Homo sapiens: one gene and its partners. The protein of the gene in region 4 interacts with the protein of the main gene of each other region in a pairwise test. Each region holds a gene or a part of one and is shown on either strand. Other genes may lie near its edges.

Evidence for each region.
Region 1: the proteins of ASIC4 (region 4) and OTX2 interact in binary tests that used the Homo sapiens proteins (3 or more experiments, as listed by UniProt).
Region 2: the proteins of ASIC4 (region 4) and ATXN3 interact in binary tests that used the Homo sapiens proteins (3 or more experiments, as listed by UniProt).
Region 3: the proteins of ASIC4 (region 4) and KIF1B interact in binary tests that used the Homo sapiens proteins (3 or more experiments, as listed by UniProt).
Region 5: the proteins of ASIC4 (region 4) and DNM2 interact in binary tests that used the Homo sapiens proteins (3 or more experiments, as listed by UniProt).
Region 6: the proteins of ASIC4 (region 4) and PHYH interact in binary tests that used the Homo sapiens proteins (3 or more experiments, as listed by UniProt).
Region 7: the proteins of ASIC4 (region 4) and DNALI1 interact in binary tests that used the Homo sapiens proteins (3 or more experiments, as listed by UniProt).

Annotation. Positions count from the first base shown.
Region 1 is NC_000014.9:56,803,980-56,807,479, reverse strand, and holds part of OTX2 (homeobox protein OTX2), read left to right. Parts: intron 1-1,812; exon of another isoform or gene 1,813-1,904; 5' UTR 1,905-2,023; coding exon 2,024-2,120; intron 2,121-3,116; coding exon 3,117-3,292; intron 3,293-3,500. UniProt on the Homo sapiens protein: Transcription factor probably involved in the development of the brain and the sense organs. Can bind to the bicoid/BCD target sequence (BTS): 5'-TCTAATCCC-3'.
Region 2 is NC_000014.9:92,082,583-92,086,082, reverse strand, and holds part of ATXN3 (ataxin-3 reference isoform), read left to right. Parts: intron 1-2,579; exon of another isoform or gene 2,580-2,670; intron 2,671-2,824; coding exon 2,825-2,957; intron 2,958-3,500. UniProt on the Homo sapiens protein: Deubiquitinating enzyme involved in protein homeostasis maintenance, transcription, cytoskeleton regulation, myogenesis and degradation of misfolded chaperone substrates.
Region 3 is NC_000001.11:10,294,070-10,297,569, reverse strand, and holds part of KIF1B (kinesin-like protein KIF1B), read right to left. Parts: intron 2,485-3,500; coding exon 2,405-2,484; intron 1,911-2,404; coding exon 1,804-1,910; intron 989-1,803; coding exon 905-988; intron 674-904; coding exon 493-673; intron 397-492; coding exon 324-396; intron 1-323. UniProt on the Homo sapiens protein: Has a plus-end-directed microtubule motor activity and functions as a motor for transport of vesicles and organelles along microtubules.
Region 4 is NC_000002.12:219,513,225-219,517,481, reverse strand, and holds the start of ASIC4 (acid-sensing ion channel 4), read right to left. Parts: upstream 2,758-4,257; coding exon 2,176-2,757; intron 787-2,175; exon of another isoform or gene 396-786; intron 278-395; exon of another isoform or gene 214-277; intron 1-213. UniProt on the Homo sapiens protein: Does not exhibit measurable stand-alone pH-gated sodium channel activity but may form pH-gated heterotrimeric sodium channels. Its activity could also depend on alternative gating mechanisms.
Region 5 is NC_000019.10:10,773,579-10,777,078, forward strand, and holds part of DNM2 (dynamin-2), read left to right. Parts: intron 1-2,124; coding exon 2,125-2,328; intron 2,329-3,500. UniProt on the Homo sapiens protein: Catalyzes the hydrolysis of GTP and utilizes this energy to mediate vesicle scission at plasma membrane during endocytosis and filament remodeling at many actin structures during organization of the actin cytoskeleton.
Region 6 is NC_000010.11:13,283,065-13,286,564, forward strand, and holds part of PHYH (phytanoyl-CoA dioxygenase, peroxisomal isoform a precursor), read right to left. Parts: intron 776-3,500; coding exon 626-775; intron 1-625. UniProt on the Homo sapiens protein: Catalyzes the 2-hydroxylation of not only racemic phytanoyl-CoA and the isomers of 3-methylhexadecanoyl-CoA, but also a variety of other mono-branched 3-methylacyl-CoA esters (with a chain length of at least seven carbon atoms) and straight-chain acyl-CoA esters (with a chain length longer than four carbon atoms).
Region 7 is NC_000001.11:37,563,440-37,566,939, forward strand, and holds the end of DNALI1 (axonemal dynein light intermediate polypeptide 1), read left to right. Parts: intron 1-1,586; coding exon 1,587-1,622; 3' UTR 1,623-3,415; downstream 3,416-3,500. Other genes in the region: GNL2 (nucleolar GTP-binding protein 2), read right to left, coding at 3,416-3,500. UniProt on the Homo sapiens protein: Involved in sperm flagellum assembly.

The DNA of each region.
Region 1 (3,500 bases), on a different chromosome or scaffold from region 4:
AGAGCTCTACATGTAAGAACATTTCCATATTTCTCAAGGGTACATCTGATATGATTTTACGATTCTCTATAGCACTGTAGTTCAGAATTTTGCAAGGTAGTACGATTAAACAAAAAATCTCCAATCTCCAGTTTAGAGGCTGTTTAAACACATATACAACTGTATTTTAAAGCTGTCGCATATGTGTTTAAACAGCCTCTAAGCTGGAGATTTTTGTTTATTTTCGCAGCCTCCAAAGAACAGCATTTTGAAAAGAAAAGACAATACAAAAACATAAAGTCTGTATTGTAGGGGCAACTAAATTAGTTGTACTGAGGATAATACAAACTCCTCCAAGAAAGACATTTATAAAATTATATTAAGTTAGATCTTAGGGTAGAAAAGCATGACTTTTGTGCTCTGAATTTAAATCAGAAAGAAGTTGCAGTTACTAAGTTTCATTTATGGACTTTTGTGCCTTGCTGTCTTAAGCAACGTAAATATGAAAACCCGGAGTCCTTTAAAGTCAGTGAGACCTTTATCTTGTATCCGCCATTTTGAAGCAATCTCTCATGGTGTCAAAGTTTCAAAGTAGAGATCCTTGCATATAAGTGCCACATTTTAGGAAAATAAAGGCCAGACTTGCAAACTGCCAGTCTATATTAACATCTACTTTGAATCTCTTTGCTGGGGTGGAGGCGGGGAGCTCAGCTGAAGAAAGTAAATAACTTTTCTTTTTCTTCCTTTCTTTTCCCCCTTGAGCTCTTTTTCTTATAGGATTGTAGGAAACTTGAAAGGTAGGGAGAAATTCTACTAGTTTCACAACTTTGGGTGTTTGTGTATCTACTTTCTTCAAAACTAAAATGTGCAAAAGGCAGTTAGAGTTAACAGGAAACTCTGCTGCAGCTGCCGAGGACCCAAATGTCTGAAAATTTGCCTCCCGCAGGATCTGCAGCCTCCACACATCAAAATCAACATGGAAGCAGCTTGCACTACAAATGTGGGGTCCCGTCATTATCTGATTGGTGGGATTCTAACTTTACTTCACAATTTCTGGCAAGCCCTGTGCCAATCTTGAAGACTTTTTTGGAATATGCTTAAATATTTGATGGGTGTCTATTAAAAGTTAAATACTTGTTTGTTTAGCTTTCGTTCCTTAGACACATATAATCAAGATTCTCCAAAACCCTAATAAATCTGTTACTTACCTCGAAATCTAATTACCCAGACTACTAATTAGGTGAAAATGATTACCGGAAATGACTTCAAATGTGGAATAATAGTGGTTGAGCGGTTTTTCCAAGTTTGTGGTTTAGTGAGTTGGTATTTTAGATGTTAAACGCACTGACATTTTAGGTTCGCAGCAGTTGAAAGTGGTAAAAAGCTAAGATAATTAAAATCTCTGCCATGGAAAGGCAACAGTCTGGGGAGAGGTAGATTTCTTGAATTGTTTCTTTGTTTCTCACCAATGGGCTTTGTTATCAGCATTATTTATTTAGCCAAAGAGTTCTTTGTCTCTGCAAATGGCCCCAATCAAGTTTTGTTTGAGACAATTAGCTAGTGCCAGCCAATGAGTCCTATGCAAATGTAGGGATAGGAATGCAATGTGTGCATTTGAAGGCACGGGTTTTTGTTCTTGGGGAAGGCAGATTGTAATTGCTTTCTTCGGGTACTTTTTTTTTTTTTTTAAGTTTAGGGTGGGGGTGGGGAAGACAGGTTTATCTGGTCTCCTTCCATCCCCTCTAGTTCCAGAGCAGCTGGGGGTGGGGGTGGGGATGGGGGTGGGGGGAGTGTCTGCAAGTCCTTTAAAAGCCTCTGCCTCGCCTAGTCCGTGCTCTTTTTAAGTTAGTGCTGGAACGTGGAAGAGCTGCTGCCTCCGAAGCAGTAAACCAGCCCCTCTGTTTGTTTGTTTGCTTTGCCCTTAGTTCCACTGCTCCAAACCCACCCACCAAGGACTCTGAACCTGTCCACCCCGGGCGCATCAAGATCTTCCAGCTGGGTACCCCCGATTTGGGCCGACTTTGCACCTCCAAACAACCTTAGCATGATGTCTTATCTTAAGCAACCGCCTTACGCAGTCAATGGGCTGAGTCTGACCACTTCGGGTATGGACTTGCTGCACCCCTCCGTGGGCTACCCGGGTAAGTGAGCCCTGCTGCACTCCCGCACCCCTCTTCCCCATGCCCACCCTCCGGGGATGCAACACCCTGTTCCCATGGAACACGGGGGTTGGCAGTCACACTGTCCCCACCCAGCTTCAGGCTTGGTCTCCTCTAGGTTTGCCTTCTGAGGAAGCAGTCCCAGGGCATTTACTGACCAAGCAGAGAACAGGGGTTGGGAAAAGTGAGTAGGTGGGTCTGCAACCGTTACAATCACATCACTTTATTCTTAATTCGAGTAAATAAGGATTGGCATCAGAGTGGGATGAGGAAGGTTACTGTCCTTGTCATTTGGGCAAAAGACCCCTACCCATATCTCAATGACCAATTCCTCAGAAGTGTCCTCTTGGAGAAGCTGAGTTTTCCCTCCGTAAGTCCTTAGCACTCTCGGGCTTCGCAGTTGTTCCCTCCATGCCCAGGCCTTCCCCTATGACCTCCAGAGCCTGCTTTAATCCCAAGAGGCGTGACTTCCTCCAAATGCGGGTGCTTTCCTTTCCAATCAGATATGTTTAAAAATCCTCCCAGGAGTATGAACTATGTCCCCATTTTAAAGATGGAGGAACAAAGGCCCATGGTGTGCTAAAAACCATGGGAACAGGATCCAGATTTCCCCCATCAATTCGAGCTGCCAGTCTGTCCTCGGAGATCCTTTGACTTCTTGGAATAGCCTTTTTGTGTTGTGGTTTGGGGGTTGATCTTGGAGAACTTTTTTGTGTGTCTTTTAAAAAATGTTTCATTTGTTAACTTTCCAAGTGATGCTCTGATTGGAGCAATCTCAACACCAAGAAGAGTAGGGAAAGAAGCAGCGTGTGTCCTGGGTCCCCGGGGAGCAAGGCTGGGGAGACGGTGGGGAGAGCATTGGTAGGCTCCCGGCTGAAGGGCTGTGAGGAACGGGGGACTGCTGCGGGGTGGAGGGCAGGGGCGTCGGAGAACCCGCGGAAACGCCTATGACTGAGAAACTGCTCCCCCACCCTAAAGGGCCCTGGGCTTCTTGTCCCGCAGCCACCCCCCGGAAACAGCGCCGGGAGAGGACGACGTTCACTCGGGCGCAGCTAGATGTGCTGGAAGCACTGTTTGCCAAGACCCGGTACCCAGACATCTTCATGCGAGAGGAGGTGGCACTGAAAATCAACTTGCCCGAGTCGAGGGTGCAGGTAGGGCAGATGCAGGCAGAACCATCCTTCCTGATCATGCCACCCTTCCCGAGTATGGGACTGTGGAGAGCCCCAGGTCTTTCAGAGGACTGAAGGAAGGCTTGAAATTCTCCTTCACTCACTAAGGGGCCAGGAAACTATTCTCCTTCTGCCCTTTTTTGCCTGCCCGTCACCACTTAATCCCGTAAGCAAGGGTCTTCAAGGCCCG
Region 2 (3,500 bases), on a different chromosome or scaffold from region 4:
CATGCTTATTGCTGCTGGGTTTGTTATGTAGTTATTGTGAATTCACATTTAGGAATATAGGGTTTTTAATTCTTTGATTTTAGATACTTGTATCTTTTTTCTTTTATATTTAAAACCTTGGTTCCTGATGATATCCCTTCTTAGAAACCCTGTCTACCTTTGGCCTTCAGCCCACCATGCTGTGGTTTTCCTAACTTGCTGCCTGCACTTTTCAGATTCCTTTCATGGATCTTAAATATCATCTGTAAATAAGATCTATGTGTCAATAATTACCAAACTTTTATCTTTAGTCTTGACATCTACCCTGAACACCTAGCTTTGACTAACTCCTAGCTTTGGCATCTCCACTTGGAAATCCAAAAAGTGTTTCAAACTGAACATGTCTATGAAAGACTTATTTTTTTCTCTCTATCCATGCTATCCATCAGGTTTTCCATTTCCATAAGGGTGACTCTTGTACTCTGGTTCCTATATATTATACCGACAGAGCAGCCCAGAGTGCTTCTTAACCAGTGTAAGGCCTGTTATGTCCCACCCTCACTCTTTGTCCTTCAGTGGCTTCCCAGCACACTTAGAATAAAATCTGAAGTCTTAGGCCGGGCTTGGTGGCTCATGCCTGCAATCCCAGCACTTTGGGAGGATGAGGGGGCAGATCACTTGAGGTCAGGAGTTGATGAGACCAGCCTGGCCAACATGGTGAAACCCTGTCTCTACCAAAAAATACAAAAATTAACTGGGTGTGGTGTTGTGCACCTGTAGTCCCAGCTACTCGGGAGGCTGAGATAGGAGAATCACTTGAACCCGGGAGGCAGAGGTTACAGCGAGCCAAGATCATACCACTGCACTCCAGCCTGGGTGACAGAACGAGACTCTCAAAAAAAAATTAAAAAAAAAAAATATGTGAAGTCTTGAATAAAACCCAAGATCTTTACCATGGCCCCTGAACAGGGCAGAGTATCCATTCTTCAGACACTCTTCATAGAATACCATGGTGAGCTGGCATATTTATTATACAATACAGAAACAATTTTACTGGCAGAAAACACATTAAACCGTCTAAACTCTGAATACAGTTGTCCTCATAAAAAATGTTCAACATACTATTTTGAGGTTTTCCATTAATAGTTCTTATAATCTTTGTCCCATTATGTGTTAATCCAACAAAGGATATCCAATAACAAACACCAAAGTTTAAGAAAAATGTGCTAGGCGCGGTGGCTCACACCTGTAATCCCAGCACTTTGGGAGGCCGAGGTGGGCAGATCACCTGAGGTCAGGAGTTCGAGACCAGCCCAGCCAACATGGTGAAACCCTGCCTCTCCTAAAAATACAAACATTAACTGGGTGTGGTGGTGGGTGCCTGTAATCCCAGCTACTCAGGAGGCTGAGGCAGGAGAATCGCTTGAACCTCCTGGGAGGCAGAGGTTGCAGTGAGCTAATATTGCACCACTGCACTCCAGCCTGGGTGACAGAGTGAGACTCCATCTCAAATTAAAAAAAAAAAAAAATTAATGATAGAGAAACTTAAATCAGTTAGATTGTTTTAGGTATAGCCCATCCTTGGTTTTTGTGTGTAGCATCTAGCTTGGGGAAACCCTGGATTTCTGGAATCATATTTAGACACAGTCACACTAGACTAATGTAATTCTTTTGGGATGCAAACCACACGTTTGACACCTTAAATAGCTTTTAGGTATTTGGCTTCCCAGCCCCTATTTTTAGTTACAAGGGGTGTACATGTGTGGGTCAGGGTGGGGGTAGCTCTTTCCGCAGATGATTAGTTTTAGCCATGTTACTAGTTATTGCACACATTATCTGTGTCCTCACAGCAGCCCTGTGAGTAAGTGTATTAGGGTTCTCTAGAGGGACAGAACTAATAAGGTAGATGTATATATGAAGGGTAATGTATTAAGGAGTATCGACTCGTATGATCACAAGGTGAAGTCCCACAATAGGCTCTCTGCAGGCTGAGGAACCAGGAAGCCAGTCCAAGTCCCAAAACCTCAAAAGTAGGGAAGCTGACAGTGCAGCCTTCAGTCTGTGGCAAAAGGCCTGAGAGCCCCTGGCAAACCACTGGTGTAAGTTCAAGAGTCCAAAAGATGAAGAACTTGGAGTCTGATGTTTGAGGGCAGGAAGCATCCAGCATGGGAGAAAGATGAAGGCTCAGCAAGTCTAGTACTTCCACACTCTTATTTCTGCCTGCTTTATTCTAGCTGAGCTGGCAGCTGATTAGATGGTGACCACCCAGTTTGAGGGTGGGTCTACCTCTCCCAGTTCACTGGCTTAAATGTTAATCTCCTTTGGCAACACCCTCGCAGACACACCCAGAAACAATAATTTGTAGCCTTCAATCCAATCAAGTTGATAATATTAACCATCACAGGAAGGTACTAGTATCATATGTTTAACAGTAGAAACCAAGACAAATGCAGCTAGGAAGTGGGAGAACTGGGATCAGATGCAGGCAGTCTGATTCTAAATCAGTTGCTGTTACCCACTCTGACAACAGTAAGTGAGTAGCCTGCTCAGTCAAGTACTATATTAGTAGGGCCCTTTACAGACATATTTATTTCTCACAGTCACTCAATGAGACGGCTCTTCCAGTCTTACAATGGAGAAAGTGAGGCTCAGAGACTTTAAGTAACTTACCTTAGACGACTTTACTAGTAAGTATAAGAATCATTATTTGGACTAAAGTCTTTCTGAATCCTCAGCTTGTATTTTTTTCCAGTGTTCTGTGCTGCCTTTTTATCTACTAGTGTTTTACATCAATTTTGAATCTCTTTACTAACTGGTTAGGTTGATTTTTGCCTTTTTTTTTTAGGTTATTCTATATTTGTCGTTAAGGGTGATCTGCCAGATTGCGAAGCTGACCAACTCCTGCAGATGATTAGGGTCCAACAGATGCATCGACCAAAACTTATTGGAGAAGAATTAGCACAACTAAAAGAGCAAAGGTAAAAATGAGGCCTGCAGTATGGAATATATGGTAGTATTTCATTATGAGAATTAAATTTTCATGCTTAGATTGAATATGTGGTCCTTGTGTTGTTGGCGACTCTATTTTGGACCTTATATTTTAGTGAAGTTTATTAGTTTAAACTTGAATCAACTCTTTGAAATACTTAAATATATTAACTTAGTTAGCTGGTATGGTATATTCCTAGCACTTCGGGAGGCTGAGGCAGGCTGATTGCTTCAACCCAGGAGTTCGAGACCAGCCTGGGCAACATGGCAAAACCTCATCTCTACAAATAGTACAAAAATTAGCCAGATGTGGTGGTGTATGCCTATAGTCCCAGCTACTTGGGAGGCAGAGGAAGAAGGATCACCTGAAACTGGGGAGGTAGAGACTACAGTGAGCCATAATCACACTACCGCACTCCAGCCTGGTCGAGAGAGTCAGACCCTGTCTCAAAAAAAAAAAAAAAAAGAAACGGAAAAAAAAAACTTAGTTGGATTCAAATTGCAACACAATCATTATATTACTAGAGCTTATT
Region 3 (3,500 bases), on a different chromosome or scaffold from region 4:
CACCACTGAAGCAAATTCCAAAACCACTATCAAGAGGCAAAGGCTACCAGAAAAGCTCTATTTCCTTAAAAAGTATTTGGTTGTAACAGAAGTTAAGATTTGGCTTTAAGACATAAAAAGCCCAAAAGAGTACCTCTGTGGACTATTTTTTCAGGCTAAGGCTACCGGGAGATTTAAGTTCATTCTCCATTAAGGAAATTAAAGAATAGTGCTTGGTATCATTGAGACAGAAGCAATTTGGGTGAGTACTGCTCTGTGGAACAGGGAAAGTATGGGAACAAGCTGCCCTTTTCCCAACAGTTTAGCAGATTCAGGACTCCTACCAGTCTCTGCTGCTCCAAAAGAAGATCTGCTTCTTCCTTCTCCTTTTTGTATAAGATCTCCATTTCCTGTAGCCTAGAAGTAAAAAAAAAAAAAAAAATTCAAGAATGCTATTAGTATTACATGTTTAAAAGAAGAAACAGTCATATGGGCTGCGTAACTGTGCATTACCTTTTCTCCATCTCTTGTTTCATATCAATTCCTTGTTTTTCCAGAAGCTCCCTCTGGGCAAATGTCCAGTCCACAGGCTCAGAGGGGGTCTCAGCAGAAGGAGTCTTCTCTCGCTCAGCTCGTGCTTGTTCCGGGTGGTTAAAGCGGAAAACATGGTTTTTACCCATGATGATACGGTTTCCTAGCACAAAACAGAAAAATAGGGTTAAGAAATAATTTTTTTAATATATAGTATCTATTTAACAACCTCACCCCTCCCTAATGTGAAAAGACAGCTTTCAGAGCTGTTGTTTTTACAAGAACAAAAATCCTAATGCTGACTATTACTTCAGCCTTTAAACAGCCAAAAATTAGAGTTGTCACAGAAGCCATGTGCACATTGCTGAAGATGGCAAACCTCTCCCAGTCTCACCTGAGCGCAGCTGAACAGGCTGGGACACCCTCTTGCCATTTACGTAGGTTTCTGAGCGCTCACAGGGCTCTAAGGTCACGATAACTAAGAGGAACAAACACAAACTAATGTTATCATTACAAACTATTGGAATCAAATAATGGAAAGCAGTTGCTTATCAGGATTTGCAGTAAGTAGAATAAATCCCTGCAATCAATCAAGTGGCTGAAGTTGTCTATACAGTAGTTCATTTTGGGGTACCAGAACTAGCCCCAATAGAAGAGGCTATCTGTGGCCATGGCTAACACAAGAACATTTAACTCTATTTGATAAACCTAAGAAGATGATAGGAAATATTAGTTTCAGGGATCTCTGACGGTTCAGTCAATAAAACTCAGAACCATCAGAAATTGTAAGGATGAGATATAGGTAATAACCAGAAACTAAAGACTGAGAAGCTAATATTTTGATAAGGGAATGAGTGACTTATATAACAGAAAAAAACCATTAAATTGTTGTTTTGTTAATAACCCAGGCAAAAATCAAGACTGACTTTTTCTTCCCTTTTAGATAAAAATAAATTCTGCTGGGTTGACTTAATGTCCTTCAAATCTCCTATTACCCAGGATATCTGCTATTTTCTTACTTTTCTATTAAATAATTAACATTCCAGACCAAGCCTAATTGCCTATGTCCTTCTCAGTTCTTGGCAGTAAAAAAGGGCTTCTTTTGTCCAAGCTATTTTCATGTAAAGCAGCCTTGTCCATCTCTGCATTCATAAGCAGCCCAGGTCTCTCCATTTTTCAGAATTAGATTGTATAAGAAAGTACTACTGATAGACAGAGAATACAAAGTCTTAAGGATTTCTCATAATATAAAATGAAAATGTTGTTGCTGAAGCTCCAGCCAGGAATGCTCACCTTCCCCGCTGTTGCTTCTCTCACTCCGGAAGATACAATGCTCTTCTTTAATGTGAGCCCCGCTCAGCACTATGTCCTGGCGCCGCTCAGCATCTGCTTGGCCAACCCTGAACACAAGAGAAAGTGTTTCCCAGGGAAATTCAGACACAGAAAGCACTACAAACAATGAACCTCTTTATTCCAAAGAATATCCTTTGGTACGTACAAAAAAGGTATTGCCTTGTTGCATCAGAAGCTTTCAACTATGAATTCTATCCTCACATATGATCAACCTCTCTACATCAGAATAAGAAACAAGGAGCACTGATATACCAATGTAACTCATACAGTATTATAAAGACATGAGTCAAATAAAATCCCTAAGGAATGTATATTTGTTAAAGGAAAAAAAAATTATTTAGGGTCTTCAGAGAAAAACTACATAGTAACTGGCTCCAGTGGCAAAAACACATTATTTGGAAAGAGAGCATAGTTTGTAACTATTTCAGACAAAAAATACAGCAAATCATTACGTTAATTTTTTCAACCCCTTCCCTTTAGTTATTCAATTATCTAAGAGGGGGAAAACACACGAAGTGACCAAAACAGGAAATAAATATACCTTGTAATTCCATCTTTGATGTAATAAAGTAGGCACTCAGACATTAGTGGGTCTTCATTGAGGTTAACAAGATGTGGGGTCTGAAAAAGATTACAGATGATCAATTTGGAGCAGGGCACCATGAGAGAGCTGTGGTAACAACAGGGGCCTACAAGAGGCCAGGCTTCTCCAACTCTCCACAGAGCCTAGAGAGGGATTTCTTTTTATCCCTAGTTGCGGTTCCATAATAAAGAGAAAACACTCTCTTCAGGCCTCACCAAACGGAACCAAGTGCATTCTATTTTATTTTAATTAATTAATTAATTTGAGACAGAGTCTCGCTCTGTCTAGAGTACAGCGGCATGATTTTGACTCACTGCAACCTCTGCCTTCCAGGTTCAAGTGATTCTCCTGCCTCAGCCTCTCAAGTAGCTGGGATTACAGGTGTTCGCCACCACGCCTGGCTAATTTTTCTATTTTTAGTGGAGGCAGGGTTTCACCATGTTGGCCAGGCTGGTCTCGAACTACTGACCTCAACTGACCCACCCTCCTTGGCCTCCCAAAGTGTTGGGACTATAGGAGTGAGCCACTGTGCCTGGCATTCCATTTTAAAACATGAGTTCTGGGATAAAAAAACAAGACCTAATTTTTGATAAGGTCAAAGCACAAGGAAAAAATGACAGGCCAATTCTCTGAACGGAATAATTATAATTTTTGTAAATGCCTGGGTAAAAATCTCAAGAAATATTTACTTTTATTAAAATGTCCCCATACCCCCCCACCACTTCCCACTATAATTTTTATCAGTTCTTCTGATCCCAGTTATTAATTTGTCTTTACCTTAAAAGATTTTAATTTATTAGTCTTTACCTTAAAGAAAAAAGTAAAATTACTGATATTCGATAAGATAAACATCTTCTAACAATCCTCTTCATCTAACTCTAATATTTCTAAAATCTTTTTAAAAAACCAACCTTCTTTAGTGAAAATAACCCACTGGAATCCAAAAATAAGTCACATGGTCTTGAGGCCAAAATCTACTCAAGAGAGTGCCAGCAAATGTGGAAGAATGAAAGAAGAGTCAGATGAGGGGGTAGGAAAAGGAACTATAAAAGAT
Region 4 (4,257 bases):
CTGGGCTGGAGACAGGGGAAATGGAAATCCCAAAGGGGAATTCCTGTCCCCCAATGCTAGCTATGCCCTCTACCCCCACTGTCCTGCACCAGGGCCAGAACCTCAGCCCACGGACTTCTACCATCCTCCTTTCTCCAGCCCCAGGGTACCAGAGGGCCTGTGGGAAATCCACCCACACTCCTCCAGGCCATCCCCAGGATTCCGGGGACTCACCAGCCTTGATCAGAGGATCCCCGTTCCTGTATCCTCCAGGCACCGCCTCCTAGCCTGGAGACCAAGCAGAACCCTCTGCCTCCCTCCCCTTACTTCCTCACCCCCTCCAGCTCTTCCTCTCCTTTCCTCTCACTGAGGTCTCATCACCCTTCCCCTTTCCTGCCCACCCCCAACTCCCGCTCGGGGACACAAAGATCCCATTGATTTCTGTCCCAACAGCACCTGCTAAGACTGAGCTCTGCCCAGCTCCCAATACGGAGTGGTGAGGATTGAGGACAGCAGAGCCCTATGGATCCCAAAGGCCACACTCACCCTCCATATCCCACCTCCTCCTCGGGGACTCTACCAACCCTTGCTTTGGGGAGCAGTGCTTTTCCCTAGGAAAGGGGGTGTACAGCCGGACAACAGGCCAATGCCCCCGACTCTTCTCCCTGCACAATGCTCCTGCTCCTGTCCCTCTATTTCTACCTAACTCCCCTGCCCAATGGCGGGAGGCCCCAGACACTGCAGGCATGGTGGGGGCCAGGAACCTCGTTGGCTGGAGCATGTTTCCTGGTGATCCTGAGGCAGCGGGTGAGTGAGAACCTGGCGGGGGTCCCTATCACTGGGGCTGGCTGCTGGAGGCTGGGCTGGAGTGGGCACCATGTTGACGCCAAACATTTGCATATGCACTGGGCAGTGGCAACGAGGATGAAACATACACGCATGCACACACAATGCTGGGAGCAAACTGTGGACTAGGGACAAGCATCTCGAGCGCCATGAATACTAGATACCCTGTGACTATGGGTGAATGGAGCCCTGACAGACAGGCAGTGTACAAGACACGCCCACCCCCTCACATACCTGACTGTGGGAGGCGTGCATGGCAGAGCAGCCCAAGCTCACACCCCTCTCCCGGAGAGGGTGCTTGTGTTTGTGCTCACACGTAGGTGACAGATGGCGCCAGCAGTCTCCAAATGGGGAGCAGCGGTTGGGATAGATGGGGGTGGGGGTGTCATGAGAAGGGATGGCATCCACAGTGGGACCCTGTCCTTGGCAGCTAAGCGAGAGCTGGGAGCTAGACATGGAGATGAGTAGCTCTCTGGGTGTGGGTGTGCAGGTGTGCATGTGAGTGTAGTGACAGGGACAGTGAGTGAGAGAGGGAGTGTGCAGGAAACTGTGTCCCCCAGCAGTGCGTGTGCGTGTGTGCGTGTGCATGTGTGCATGCACCCGTGCTGGGGCAGCAGTGAGGGTGAGTTATGCACATAAGAGTGAACCAGTGATTCCCAGTGTAAGAGCCAGAGCTGGGCATGGGAGCCGCTAGAACAGGAGACAGAGGGGGACTGGACCCCAGGAGGGCTGGAGGGCAGAATGAAAGAGGGATGTGTGAGGGAGTCTGTGAGGCAGGCATGTGAGAGACACACAGAGATCCAGAAGAGACACTGGCACCCAGTGTCCTGAAGACCGGGTCTCTCCAGCCTGCCCACCAGGCCAGCTCCCCAGGAGGCCACCCGGGGTCCTTCCCTAGATGGAGCCCCCCAAACCTCCCCTCCCTATCTCCTTCGTTTGGTGGGAAGAATCCAGTAGCCTCAGAAGAAAAAGGGAGCAAGAGAAAAGTGAGAGTCAGTTGGTCTGGCCTTGGGATGGTGCGTGCGTTCCCTGCAAGCCAGCCAGCTCCAGGACACCTGGGCCCATGCCTAGGAACCCCCACCCCAACTCCCAGACCTGGGCACTGCAGCAGCAGCAAAACCAAGAAGAGGAGCAGCAGGCGCCCCAGGGTAAGCCCCTATGAGCGGCCACTGCTCCATGGCTGGGAAGCCAGAGGGAGACGCCAGGCTTGGGGAAACACGAGGCCAGCCTCTGGTGGTGGAATGAAGGGAAGCCCTGTTGAGGATGCCCCTGTACACCACTGCCACCACTCCTCCCCACTCCCCAGCCTCCGGCCATCCAAGGCCAGGCAGCCCAGCTGGCAGAACTCACCACAGAGAAGTTGCTGGCGGAGCAGTGATGCCCACTGAAGTTGCAGCTCTTAAGCATGTCGGCGAGCTGGTGGCCAGTGCGGTTGAGGATGTCTACCATGTCAGGCTCTGGGTAGCGCAGGCCAGCCGCACGGTGCCCATCCCGGTCTTTGGGGGGCAGCCCTGTCAGATTGGCCAGGTGGAAGATGTCGGCATCGCTGAGTGCCGAATGCCGGAAGCGGTTGATATTGCAGAGGGTGACAGCCGGGAAGCCCGCCACTGGGGCTGGGGCAGCGGGGTCCATTGCCACCAGGTGAGGCCGGGTCAGGTAGCCCCGGGCCAGGCCAGCCGCCTGGTACAGGAAGGCAGCCAGCGAGGTGAGTAGGGCCAGTGCCCACAGGGTTCTGCGCAGTCCGTGGGGGCCTGGGCCACAGGCCCGGCCCAGTCCATGCAGGGTGCTGGTGCTGGCAAAGGTGGCCAGGTCTCGGGGGGCTGCTCCAGGGGCAACAGCCCCGAGGAGGCTCTGCTCATCCCCTGCCTCCTTCTCCTTGGGTTTCGCATCCTCCTCAGCAAATTTGATTTTGCACACAATCTCGATCGGCATCTGTCCCCGGCTGCTGGGACTGGCCAGAGCCTCCCTGCCCTGTCCCTCCCTAGCCAGCAGCCCTGGTGCCCTCCCGAGTGGCAGTGGTGGCAGCGGCTGCTCTTCTAAACTCAGGGCAAGCGGGAAGAGGACAGGGACAGGGTGGGGGCCCGAGGTGGGGGAGTCACTCCCACTCCCAGCAGCTCCGCAGCCCTGGTGCTGCCTCTGCCGCTGCTGCCTCTGCTGCCGCTTGTCTCTCTCCTCGATCGTCTCCTTGTGGCTTCCCTTATCAGCACCAGCACAGCTGTCAGCCCCTGCGTGTGTCCCTGCGAGCGAGCGAGTGAGCGAGGGAGCGAGCGCTGCTCCGCCACGCCGCGCAGCCCCAGCCGCTCCGCTCAGCATGTGCTCCGGAGCCCTCCCCACGCTTAATAATTCAGGACATGTCAACAGCGTTTCACCGGCAGCACGGGCGTCAGGAGCCAGGCCAGGGGAGGGGGCAGTCCCCAGCCCAGGACAGAGATCCCAAGACTGGGGCTATCCCCCAAACTCCTGCTGCACCCTAGCCGCTCACTGGGTCCCCAGATCTCCCCACTTCCTGGCCACCCAGGGAAGGGTGCCGTGCCCAGGGTCCTCAGCTCATTCTTTGCCACTTTCCTGGCCCACACCCCATGAAGGGTCAGCCAACTCTATCCCCCCACCTCCTGGCCTCTGAGACTCCTGACTCCAGCACCCAGCCACCACCTGATCCCACTACCCGACTCACAGCAGCTTCCAGAAACTCCTTGAGAGAGCCACTTGTTTGAATGACGGAGGGAGGGGGGCAGAGGAGGGCAGGCTAGACAGACCAGGGGACAACTGTGACTTCAAGATTCTCAGCTTCCCTGGAGCTTTGCTCCAGACTTCAACACCCACCATGCCCCTGCCCCCTCTGGGAGGCTGGCTGCCCTCACCCTCATTTTGCCCCCAACCCCAATCTCAGTCATTCATATGTCTGGGACAGACAGCACCCTGGCCAGCTTGCATATCTGTGGCCACTTTGCTTCCCCAAATGTTCCCCAAATCCCTTGCCACAACCAGGCTTCGGGGGAGGGCTGTTGGGTAAGCAAGCCAGGGAGCAAAGGGGAGGTGTGCTTCCGGGGTGCTCTATATGTAGGGGGACAGGGCATGCAATGGAGGGAGAGGAAGAGCCCCAGTGGGGGCGTGGAAGGGAGCAGGAAGATGTGCTGGGCGTCAATGGGAGCGAATGCTCTCCTAAAGAAAGGGGTTTGAGGGGTGCCTGGCAGAGTGGGGCAGGAGAGCCCTAAGGGGTCTGCTGTGTTCTCGTGGAGGGGAACAGGCATGTGGGCCATCATCATAGGTGGGGGTGGGAGCCTCAGTTGACTGGCCAGGAGGGGATGCATCCATGCCCCCAGGGTGGGGGTGGCAAGAATCAGTGCTTGTGCTCTGGGGCCCCATCCGACAGCATGTGCCCTCACGGGGGAGGAAGCCCTTGTCCCCGGGAGGAAAGGGGGGCTGATTAAT
Region 5 (3,500 bases), on a different chromosome or scaffold from region 4:
GCTGGGATTACAGGTGTGTACCACCCTGCCTGGCTAATTTTTTTTTTATTTTTTATTTTTTTTATTTTTAGTAGAGACGGGGTTTCACCATGTTGCACAGGCTGGTCTCGAACTCCTGAGCTCAGGCAATCCACCCACCTCAGACTCCCAAAGTGCTAGGATTACAGGCGTGAGCCACCACGCCCAGCCCATTCAGCTACTTTTTTGTATTTTTAGTAGAGATGGGGTTTCACCATGTTGGCCAGGCTGGTCTCGAACTCCTAACCTCAGGTGATCGCCTGCATCCCCCTCCCAAAGTGCTGGGATTACAGGTTTTAGCCACCTTGCCCAGCCAAATATCCTGATTTTAAAACTCTGCATTCAAACAGCAGCCCGGGGCCATAGACATCCTCTGGCCCAGAGGCACAGATTGCTACCATGATGGGTTCCTTGCGATAAGTTTTAAATTTGTTTTTCAATAAATGACACCTGCATGTGGCTCAGAATTCAAAAATTACAGAAAGGTATATCGCAAAAACCTACCTTGTCAACCAGTTTTGCACACATATTTTAGGTTCTTCAGATGACAATGCAAACATGAGCTGGGTGTGGTTTCACACACCTGTCATTCAAGCTGCCTGAAAGGCTGAGTCAGGAGGGTCACTTGGGCCCAGGAAGTCGAGGTTGCAGTGAGCTATGATCACATCTGTGAATAGCTACTGCACTTCACCTGGGTAACATAGCAAGACCCTCTATCTTAAAAAAAATGTGTAAGCAAAAAACATGTAAGCAATTGTGATTGTATCTATGTATATGTTGTGTATGTGTTTATCACTCCTTTTCCTTAAATTGTTAGCATAACATAAAAATCACTTATGCTTTTTTTGAGATGGAGTTTCACTCTTATTGCCCAGGCTGGAGTGCAATGGTGCAATCTTGGCTTACCGCAACCTCCACCTCCCGGGTTCAAGTGATTCTCCTGCCTCAGCCCCCTGAGTAGCTGGGATTACAGGCATGCGCCACCTCACCCGGCTAATTTTGTATTTTTAGTAGAGACGGGGTTTGTCCGTGTTGGTCAGGCTGGTCTCGAACTCCCGACCTCAGGTGATCGCCTGCCTTGGCCTCCCAAAGTGCTGGCATTACAGGTGTGAGCCACTGCGTTGGCCTATGCTTTTTTTTTTTTTTTGTATGCCTCTCAGAATGTTTCTTTATTATATATTTATTTTTTTTTTTTTTTGAGACAGGGTTTAACACTGTTGGCCAAGCTGGAGTACAGTGGTGAGATCTTGGCTCACTTCTTCTCCTGGGCTCAGGCGATCCTCCCGCCTTAGTCTCCTGAGTAGTTAGGACAACAGATGCACACCATCATGCCAGGCTAATTTTTTATATTTTTGGTAGAGGTAGGGTTTCGCCATCTTGCCCAGGCTGGTTTCGAACTCCTGAGCTCAAGTGATCTACCCATCATGGCCTCCCAAAGTGCTGGGATGACAGGCATGAGTCACCGCGCCTGGCCTCATCCATTTGTCTTTTGTTTTTGTTTTTTTGAGACAGTCTTGCTCTGTCGCCCAGGCTGGAGTGCAGTGGTATGATCTCAGCTCACTGCAACCTCCACCTTCTGGGTTCAAGTGTTTCTCATGCCTCAGCCTCCAGAGTAGCTGGGAGTACAAGTGTGTGCTACCACGCCCAGCTAATTTTTGTATACTTAGTACAGATGGGGTTTTGCCATGTTGGCTAGGCTGGTCTAGAACTCCTGGCCTCAAGTGATCCACCCACCTCGGCCTCCCAAAGTGCTGGGATTGCAGATGTGAGCCACCGCACCCAGCCTCATCTGTTTGTCTGTAATGGTTCTTTGGTATTGGCTGAATGGATGGGCTGAAATTTATTCAGTCATTTAGGTCTATTCCAGTCTGAACTGTCCTGATTTAGAACTGTGCCATTGAAATGGAGTAGGTAGAAGGTATCTGTAGGATGGGATCCTAGAAGGGGAGTTACTGGATCAAAGGTGTGGTTCAGGCAGAGTGTCAGGCGACATCCTCAAGTCTGAGCCCCGCGCAGGAACTTTGGTAGTCAGCTGGGTGGCTGCGGGCCTGTTTGTGCCTCCCCTCTCCTGGCTCTGAATGCCTTTCCTTCTGGTTTCCCTCCCAGTGTTGAACTTGACCCTCATCGACCTCCCGGGTATCACCAAGGTGCCTGTGGGCGACCAGCCTCCAGACATCGAGTACCAGATCAAGGACATGATCCTGCAGTTCATCAGCCGGGAGAGCAGCCTCATTCTGGCTGTCACGCCCGCCAACATGGACCTGGCCAACTCCGACGCCCTCAAGCTGGCCAAGGAAGTCGATCCCCAAGGTAACCCTGAGCCTAGGGCAGTCCCCTCTTCCAGGTGCCTCTGAGCATGGGATGTGCCCAGCATCCTTGGTTCCAAGTCACTGGCGTTCTCTTTAATCCATGGCCGCTGTAGGAAAAGGCCTCCTGGAACATGGCACTTCCTCCGAGAACCAGCAGTGCTGGTGGGCATCCCCTGGGAAGTCACTGTGTGGCAGTTGGACGGTCCTCCTTGGACATGGCAGTGCCCATGTTGCCAGAGTGGGAAGCTAGCCTAGGGCTGAAGGAAGGGCCCAGCGCTCCATCGCCCAGATGCGATCTTAGGTCCCATCTAGCTGTTACTCTGCTCCCTGAGACATGGTCCCCTCTTAGTCAGAACGGGAACTTCAGTCCTAACCCAGATAGCTGATGTGAGGACTGTTGAACTTTTGGGTTGTTTCTGATCTTTGCATGGTGAGATCGTCTATTTCCCTTCGAGTTGACACCCCTGGGCCCCTCTAGTCAGATCCTTCTACTGAACCCTCACTGCAGAATGTGAGCAGGAAGGGGCCCCAGGGAGGGCACAGCTGTGGCCCCCTTGATGCCCAAATTGGCACCCACCAGAGATCTTCACTCTGGCTTCCATCTGTCCCCAGTGTCTCATGCACATGCCACACATATAACACACACGGTTAGCACAGAGCCAGGCCCTCAGCCCCCGTGGGAGCAGTTGATCTGCAGAGGTGAGACTTTGCTAGAAAGACATCCTTGACTCTGGAATGACTTGTGGAGAGGTGGAATTGGATGGGATGGTTTCCAGAGTGGAATTTTAGCCATTCAGGCAAGAGGTAGTCCTGGAAACAGTCGTGTCAAACTCAAATGTTCCCTTGGGACTTTGCCGGCACTTGGAAAGTCCAGCATCAAAATCTGGCCCAGGAATCATGTTTACGTGAGGTTTCCCAAAGCCTGCAGCAGCAGAGGTTGTCCTTAATAACACAAATGACAATAACGGCCAGCATTTGTTGAGTATTTGCCGTGTGCCAGGCTCACCCTTATGACCACCCTGTGAGATCAGGGCTGTGACCATCTTCATTCGACATGTCGGAAACTGGGGTCCAGGCCTGTGACGTTCTGGCTTTCCCAGGTGATGTGACCTGGAAGTTTCAGGGCCAACTGGACCCCAGGTGGCTTGCAGCTGCCAGCTGATGCTCTTTCCT
Region 6 (3,500 bases), on a different chromosome or scaffold from region 4:
CCCGCCTCAGCCTCCGGAAGTGCTGGAATTACAGGCATGAGCCACTGCACCTGGCTTTCATAATCAATTTTTTTTTTTTTTTTTGAGACGGAGTCTCGCTGTCGCCCAGGCTGGAGTGCAGTGGCGCGATCTCGGCTCACTGCAGACTCCACCCCCTGGGGTTCACGCCATTCTCCTGCCTCAGCCTCCCGAGTAGCTGGGACTACAGGCGCCCGCCACCTCGCCCAGCTAATTTTTTGTATTTTTAGTAGAGATGGGGTTTCACTGTGTTAGCCAGGATAGTCTCGATCTCCTGACCTCGTGATCCACCCGCCTTGGCCTCCCAAAGTGCTGGGATTATAGGCATGAGCCACCGCGCCCGGCCCATAATCAATATTGACAAGGTTAGGATCCTGAGGTCACCTGGCTTCTTACTGATAAGAGCACAGAAAGCCCAAGGTAAGCAAATATATTTCCTGGTAAATAAACTGGACTAAAGTCCAGGTTGGTTAAAAGCCACAAATCTTTAAAATGTTAATGCAATTTAATTAAAATTTTATTCAATTAATTTGAATTCAATGAATTGAATACAATTTTTGTTTCTAACCCACACTTCTGCAGCAGGTGCAGCAATGTGAATGCTTACCTTCCGGAATCCCTGGGTTTTATTCTGACCAGATCCGTGGATGAGCAAAGGATGGAAGAAAACAGTGTCGCCCTTCTCCATCACCAGGTGCACCCGGGCCTTGTTTTCCTCGTAGTCCTGGATCCCGTGGAACATTTTGTTAACTCCCCCCTAGAACAAGAGGCAAGTGAAGTCTACATTTGAGGGAGTACCATAATTAAAAACATTGTCAATGGTTCATCAGGGAAAGCAAACATCAGGGAAAGAAAGCATTTCTCTCTCCCAAGAGAAATAAATGTCTAAATTAAATGCTTACATTTTTTTCAGTATACAAAAGCCTCTCAGATATCTGGTTTTTAAGAGTCACATTTTGGCCGGGCATGGTGGTTCATGCCTGTAATCCCATCTCTTTGGGAGGCCAAGTTGGGAGAATTGCTTATGCTCAGGAGTTTGAGATCAGCCTGGGCAACATGGCAAAACCCCATCTCTACAAAAACTGCAAAAATTAGCTGGGCGTGGTGGTGCCAGCCTGTGGTCCCAGCTACTCAGGAGGCTGAGGTGGGAGGATCGATTGAGCCGGGAGGGGGAGGTTCCAGTGAGCCATGATCACACCACTGCCCTCCAGCCTGGACAACAGAGCAAGACTCTGTCTCGAAAAATAATGGTAATAAAAAAAAAGAAGTCACATGTTGATATTAAAATCACTGATTTTTTGGAGGAAATGAACAGTGTGGAATTTCCACCTGCCCTTCATGACTGCATTATACATGAAGATCTAGCTTAGCTTTGCCTTTTGTGGTTAATGCAGGCAACCACCTATCTCTTGGGCATTTCCAGCCTGAAACTGTGAGTGTTCCCAGTGTGTTCTCCTCCTCGCCCAGAACTTTAAATAAATCCTTCATCTCTTACTCAGGAGTGTCTCTGAGAAGCTATTTCCCCAAAATAGGGGGGAGAAAATGCTCAATTTTTCTGAGCTCAAAGGCACTTATGTTACATCCAGAATAATGAAAGAATAGTAAATTAAAACACTGTGTTTGTTTGTAACTATTTCCCAAATTAGTTGCTACTTTAGGTAATGCGGTTATGTCTTTATTAAAGAAATTGACATGAGAAGCACCTTAGGAGTCAGGGTAAGGGAAGCAGCCCATTCCTCTTCCTAAGAGCATCCCCAGTTCCTTCTGGGAATGACGACATCCCTCTTAGACAGTGCTGAGACTCTGACCCAGAGCCCTTCTCTCCTGGCCAGGGTGAATGTGTGACCCACACTAAGCTAATCATACCTCCCACTCTGCATCTGAGCAGGGTATCTGAGACTCCACACGCTCTGGAAGCCCTGCAAACTTTTCCCTTTGCCTTCTGTCAGCCAAAGCCCACTGCAGTTGCATGCACCAAACTTTAAACCTTGGCTTCACTGATGAGTTTCACATTAAATGGTTTTATATCAGGATCCAGACACTCACATATTTTCATTTGACACTAATTATTGGTGCAAGAAATCTGAGACGTTCTATTATTATTATTATTGTTATTACTGAGATGGAGTCTTGCTCTGTCGCCCAGGCTGGAGTGCAGTGGTGCGATCTCAGCTCACTGCAACCTCCATCTCCCAGGTTCAGGCAATTCTCCTACCTCAGCCTCCCGAATAGCTGGGAGTACAGGCACACACCACCATGCCTGGCTAATTTTTGTATTTTTAGTAGAAATAGGGCTTCACTATCTTGGCCATGCTGGTCTCAAACTCCTGACCTCAAGTGATCCACCCGCCACGGCCTCCCAAAGTGTTAAGATTATAGGCGTGAGCCACTGTGTCCAGACGAGTTAGGAGTTCCTAAAACCATGTTCCTCATTTCCTATCGAACTACAACTCATTCTCCCTGCTTTAACAATGGGGGCTCTTTCCATTCGCAGCATCATGGGATTCCAGGATCTTTTCTTTTCTTTTTTTTTTTTTTTTGAGATGGAGTCTTGCTTTGTTGCCCAGGCTGGAATGCAGTGGCGCGATCTCAGCTCACTGCAAACTCCACCTCCTGGGTTCAAGCTATTCTCCTGCCTCAGCCTCCTGAGTAGCTGGGACTACAGGCGCACGCCACCACACCAGGCTGATTTTGTATTTTTAGTAGAGACAGGGTTGCTCCATGTTGGTCAGGCTGGTCTCGAACTCCTGACCTCAAGTGATCCGCCCACCTCAGCCTCCCTAAGTGCTAGGATTACAGGCATGAGCCACTGCGCCCAGCCCAGGATCTTTTCTTTTTCTTTTGATACGGGAACTTGCTCTGTCACCCAGGCTGGAGTGCAGTGGCACCAACATAGCCCACTGCAGCCTCGAATTCCTGGGCTCAAGTAATCCTCCTGCCTCAGCCTCTGGAATAGCTGGGACTACATGCATGCGCCACCATGCCCAGCTAATTATTATTATTATTATTTTTAGAAATGAGACCTCACCGTGTTGCCCAGGCTGGTCCTGAACTCCTGGGCTCAAGCGATCCTCCCACTTTGGCTCCCACAGGGTCTTTTCACCTTAGACCTAACGCGTTAATAGTCATCTCTCTGGTTTCTTTGCTTCTAGATGCCTATACCTCTAACGCGTCCTGCACCAGAACGTGACATTACTGTCCTTGAAGAGCCGATTTGATCCCATCACTCATGAGCTCAAATGCATTTAACATTTCCAAGCATCAGCAGCTGAATGGATGAACAAACCATGGTTCACGGTGCAGCCATGCAATGGAATACTACTCAGCAAGGGAAGGGAAAGAACTACTGTTGGCCAGGCGCGGTGAGCCCAGCACTTTGGGAGGCCGAGGCAGGCAGATCACGAAGTCAGGAGATCGAGACCATCCTGGCCAACATAGTGAAAACTCGTCTCTACTAAAAATATAAAAATTAGCTGAGCATG
Region 7 (3,500 bases), on a different chromosome or scaffold from region 4:
AAGCAATCTTGTAATCTCCAGGGTGAAAGATTCTTTAGAAGTTGGCATTTTTAAATTTTTTTTCTTTTGAGACGGAGTTTTGCTCTTGTTGCCCAGGCTGGAGTGCAATGGCACCATCTCAACTCATTGCAACCTCTACCTCCCGGGTTGAAGTGATTCTCTTGCCTCAGCCTCCTGAGTAGCTGGGATTACAGGCATGTGCCAGCACGCCCGGCAAATTTCTGTATTTTGAATAGAGATGGGGTTTCACCATGTTGGCCAGGCTGGTCATGAACTCCTGACCTCACATGATCTGCCCACCTTGGCCTCCCAAAGTGCTGGAATTACAGGCTTGTAATACAGGAAGTGAGCTATTTTTATTGGCTCAAAACTGCATTGCAAATAAAGCAGCTTTGCTGTCCCCAGGATAGACCTACCTAAAGATCTGTCCAGTATTATTTTATTGGCTACCAGAGGAACATAGTAAATAACTCCCAAGTGTCTTAAGCTTTACATAAAGAGGGACAGCTCTCGGCTGGGTGTGGTAGCTCACACCTGTAATCCCAGCACTTTGGGAGGCCGAGGCAGGTGGATCACATGAGGTCAGGAGTTTGAGACCAGCCTGGCCAACGTGGTGAAACCCATTTCTACTAAAAATACAAAAAGTAGCTGGGCGTGGTGATGTGCATCTGTAATCCAAGCTACTCAGGAGGCTGAGGCAGGAGAATCACTTGAACCCGGGAGGTAGAGGTTGCAGTGAACCGATATCACACCATCACACTCCAGCCTGGGTGACAAGAGCAAAACTCCATTCCCCACCCCCACCCCCCAACAAAGAGGGACAGCTCTGTATTCACTGGCAGCATTTCTCTAATTGTGTGCCAAGTTGTCTCAGTGGCTGAAAATTCACTGTTTCCCAAACCTCTGGTCCCAGCAGAACTCCCAGGATCCTAAACCAGAGAGCCAATATTTTTTTTTTTTTGAGACGGAGTCTCCCTCTGTCACCCAGGCTGGAGTGCAGTGGCACGATCTTGGCTCACTGCAAGCCCCGCCTCCCAGGTTCATGCTATTCTCCTGCCTCAGCCTCTGGAGTAGCTGGGACTACAGACGCCTGCCACCACGCCCAACTAATTTTTGTATTTTTAGTAGAGACGGGGTTTCACCGTGTTATCCAGGATGGTCTGGATCTCCTGACCTCACGATCCGCCCGCCTCAGCCTCCCAAAGTGCTGGGATTACAGGAATGAGCCACTGCGCCCGGCCAGAGAGCCAAATGTTTAACTTAGCAGACATATTCTGGCCTGAAACCTGAGCCATGAAAAGCCCTTACAACAATGCATTCAATATCCTTTTCAATGCTTTATATCATACCCGGAGCCATTATTGTGTTGAAACCAGGACAGCTCTGGCTTCTCCTCATATACTAAAGACTGTATGCCAAGCTAGAAACTAGCTAATCTAGAAAATATGGATTTGGGGATCAAGGGGAAAAAGAACCCTTGGAGTGACAGCATGTGGATTCTTCTTCCCAGAGATTTGATCACCTCTCAGCTATTTGTATCAGGCTGCAAGTTTCAAGTATTAATGGAGCTTGTTTTTGTTTTTCAGGCCCAACTGGAAGGCATTATTGCACCAAAGAAGTGATAATTTCCACATGATTAATTTCCAACAAGACACTTGGGAGTTATTTACTGTGTTCCTCTGGCAGCCAATAAAATCATCATAAGCCCTTTGTAATAAAAAGCTAGTTTCCTGAGTGAACAAGCCATAACCTCCCCTAAACACCACCTAGGTATTTGTTAGAAGTCACACTATTACTCCAATGTCATCAGACACCTAAGGTCTGCCAGCCAGGCTCCTGGCTGGGCAATGGAAGATGGTGTGGCCCTGTTAGTCTCCGTGTGTGGCTTACTAGCCAGCCTTGGGAACTGCCAACTCAAATTCTAAGAAAGCCACTGCTTTCTCATCATCACTCTATACCAATACTTATTTCTGGCCAAATGAATCTGCTTCTCTGCCCCTCAAACTTTTAGTTCACAATTCATCTTCTACCTTAACTTGGGCTTCTTGGGCCTCTGGCCTTCCTTACTTAATGTCTTCTTTTCCCTACTCTAATGCATTTCTAACTCACTTTGGAGCTTTGGTTTTCTAATGTATTATCCCCACTTGCCAGTCAACTGGACCCCTTCCTCCTCGGTTTCAGACTGCCTACATTAGGAAACAATGGCAGTCAAACCCATGGCTTTGGAGAAAGTAAATGTTTGCCAGAAAGGAATACTAGTCACAGTGGCCTTTGTGAGTTGTCTGCAACTCAGCTCTTCCCCCAGCACAGATCTGTTCCCCTTATCCTGCAGAAAATCAAGCCCTGACTCTGCACTCCCCGAAGTAGTGATGTTAATTAACAACTGAAGAGGTAACTAAATCTCACATGCAGGTCTAATGACTAATAATTGGAGTACGGCTGCTAGACAACTGCATTTTAGTATTTCTCTTCCATTCTCCTGGTTTTGTAGACCCAGAAGATTGAATGAGTGACATAAATCTTTAGTTCGGGGCAAGCCAGGGTGGGCTAGGGTGGTAAGCTGGAGGACTTCATCCTTCAGTTAGGCTGCACAAGTAACATTACCTAAAAGGCACTAACATGCTCAGGTTCCCCAGAAAGAGGCGTAAGAAGGGCCTCTCCTTAGCAGAGCTTCCACCTGCCATCCGTCTTGGGTTCAGTGAGCTTCAAGGCTCACAATGGAAGCACTGTCATTTCCCCAGAAAAGCTGTGTTCCCTATGCTGAACACACCATACACATTCTCATCTGGAATCTAAGGAGCAGCTTTTACCCTGATCCAGTATCCTGAGGAATTTTAAGCCTCCACTCAAATGACCTGCCTGTGTTGTCATTTCCATGGGAAAGAACTCTTTCCACGAGATCTGCTAGTTCCAGGCCTCTAAGACAGGAACGTATGTGCCATAAGTGGGTCTACTTCACAGACTCAATGAGGCAGAAATTATTGTAGTTTTCTCCTATTTCTTCTGCACCCAACTTTCTCCTTGTATTTCAAAGGCCAGGCCATGTACACTAACGTCCTTGAAATTTGCAGTTCTGTATGCTTCTATTCCAAATCATTCATTACCAATAAAAACGAAATACCACCCTTTCCATTTTATAGACCTCATCCCCTATTTCTGTCAGACAGTTATATGACAGGGTGACTGTGGAACCTCTTAGTTCATCCAAAGTCTACCTGAAGTGCTAGACTTTCAGACTCTTATCACTGAAATCCTTAAGGTTGAGGAGGCTTTATTTCCCTAGCACTGGTGAAGGGCTTCAACTGTCAAACCTCAGAACAAATGCATTAGGGCCTTAGAAATGTCAATGGGGCAGGAAGAAAACACAATTTCTAACTGCCTGTTTTTGTATAATTTAATAAAAACCTTTTAAACATTACTGCTTTTGTCTGAATTTTTTGCGTTTGTGTTTCTGTCCCTCTGAGTCATTGGTCTTCTTTTTGTTCCTGTTCCTATTTTTC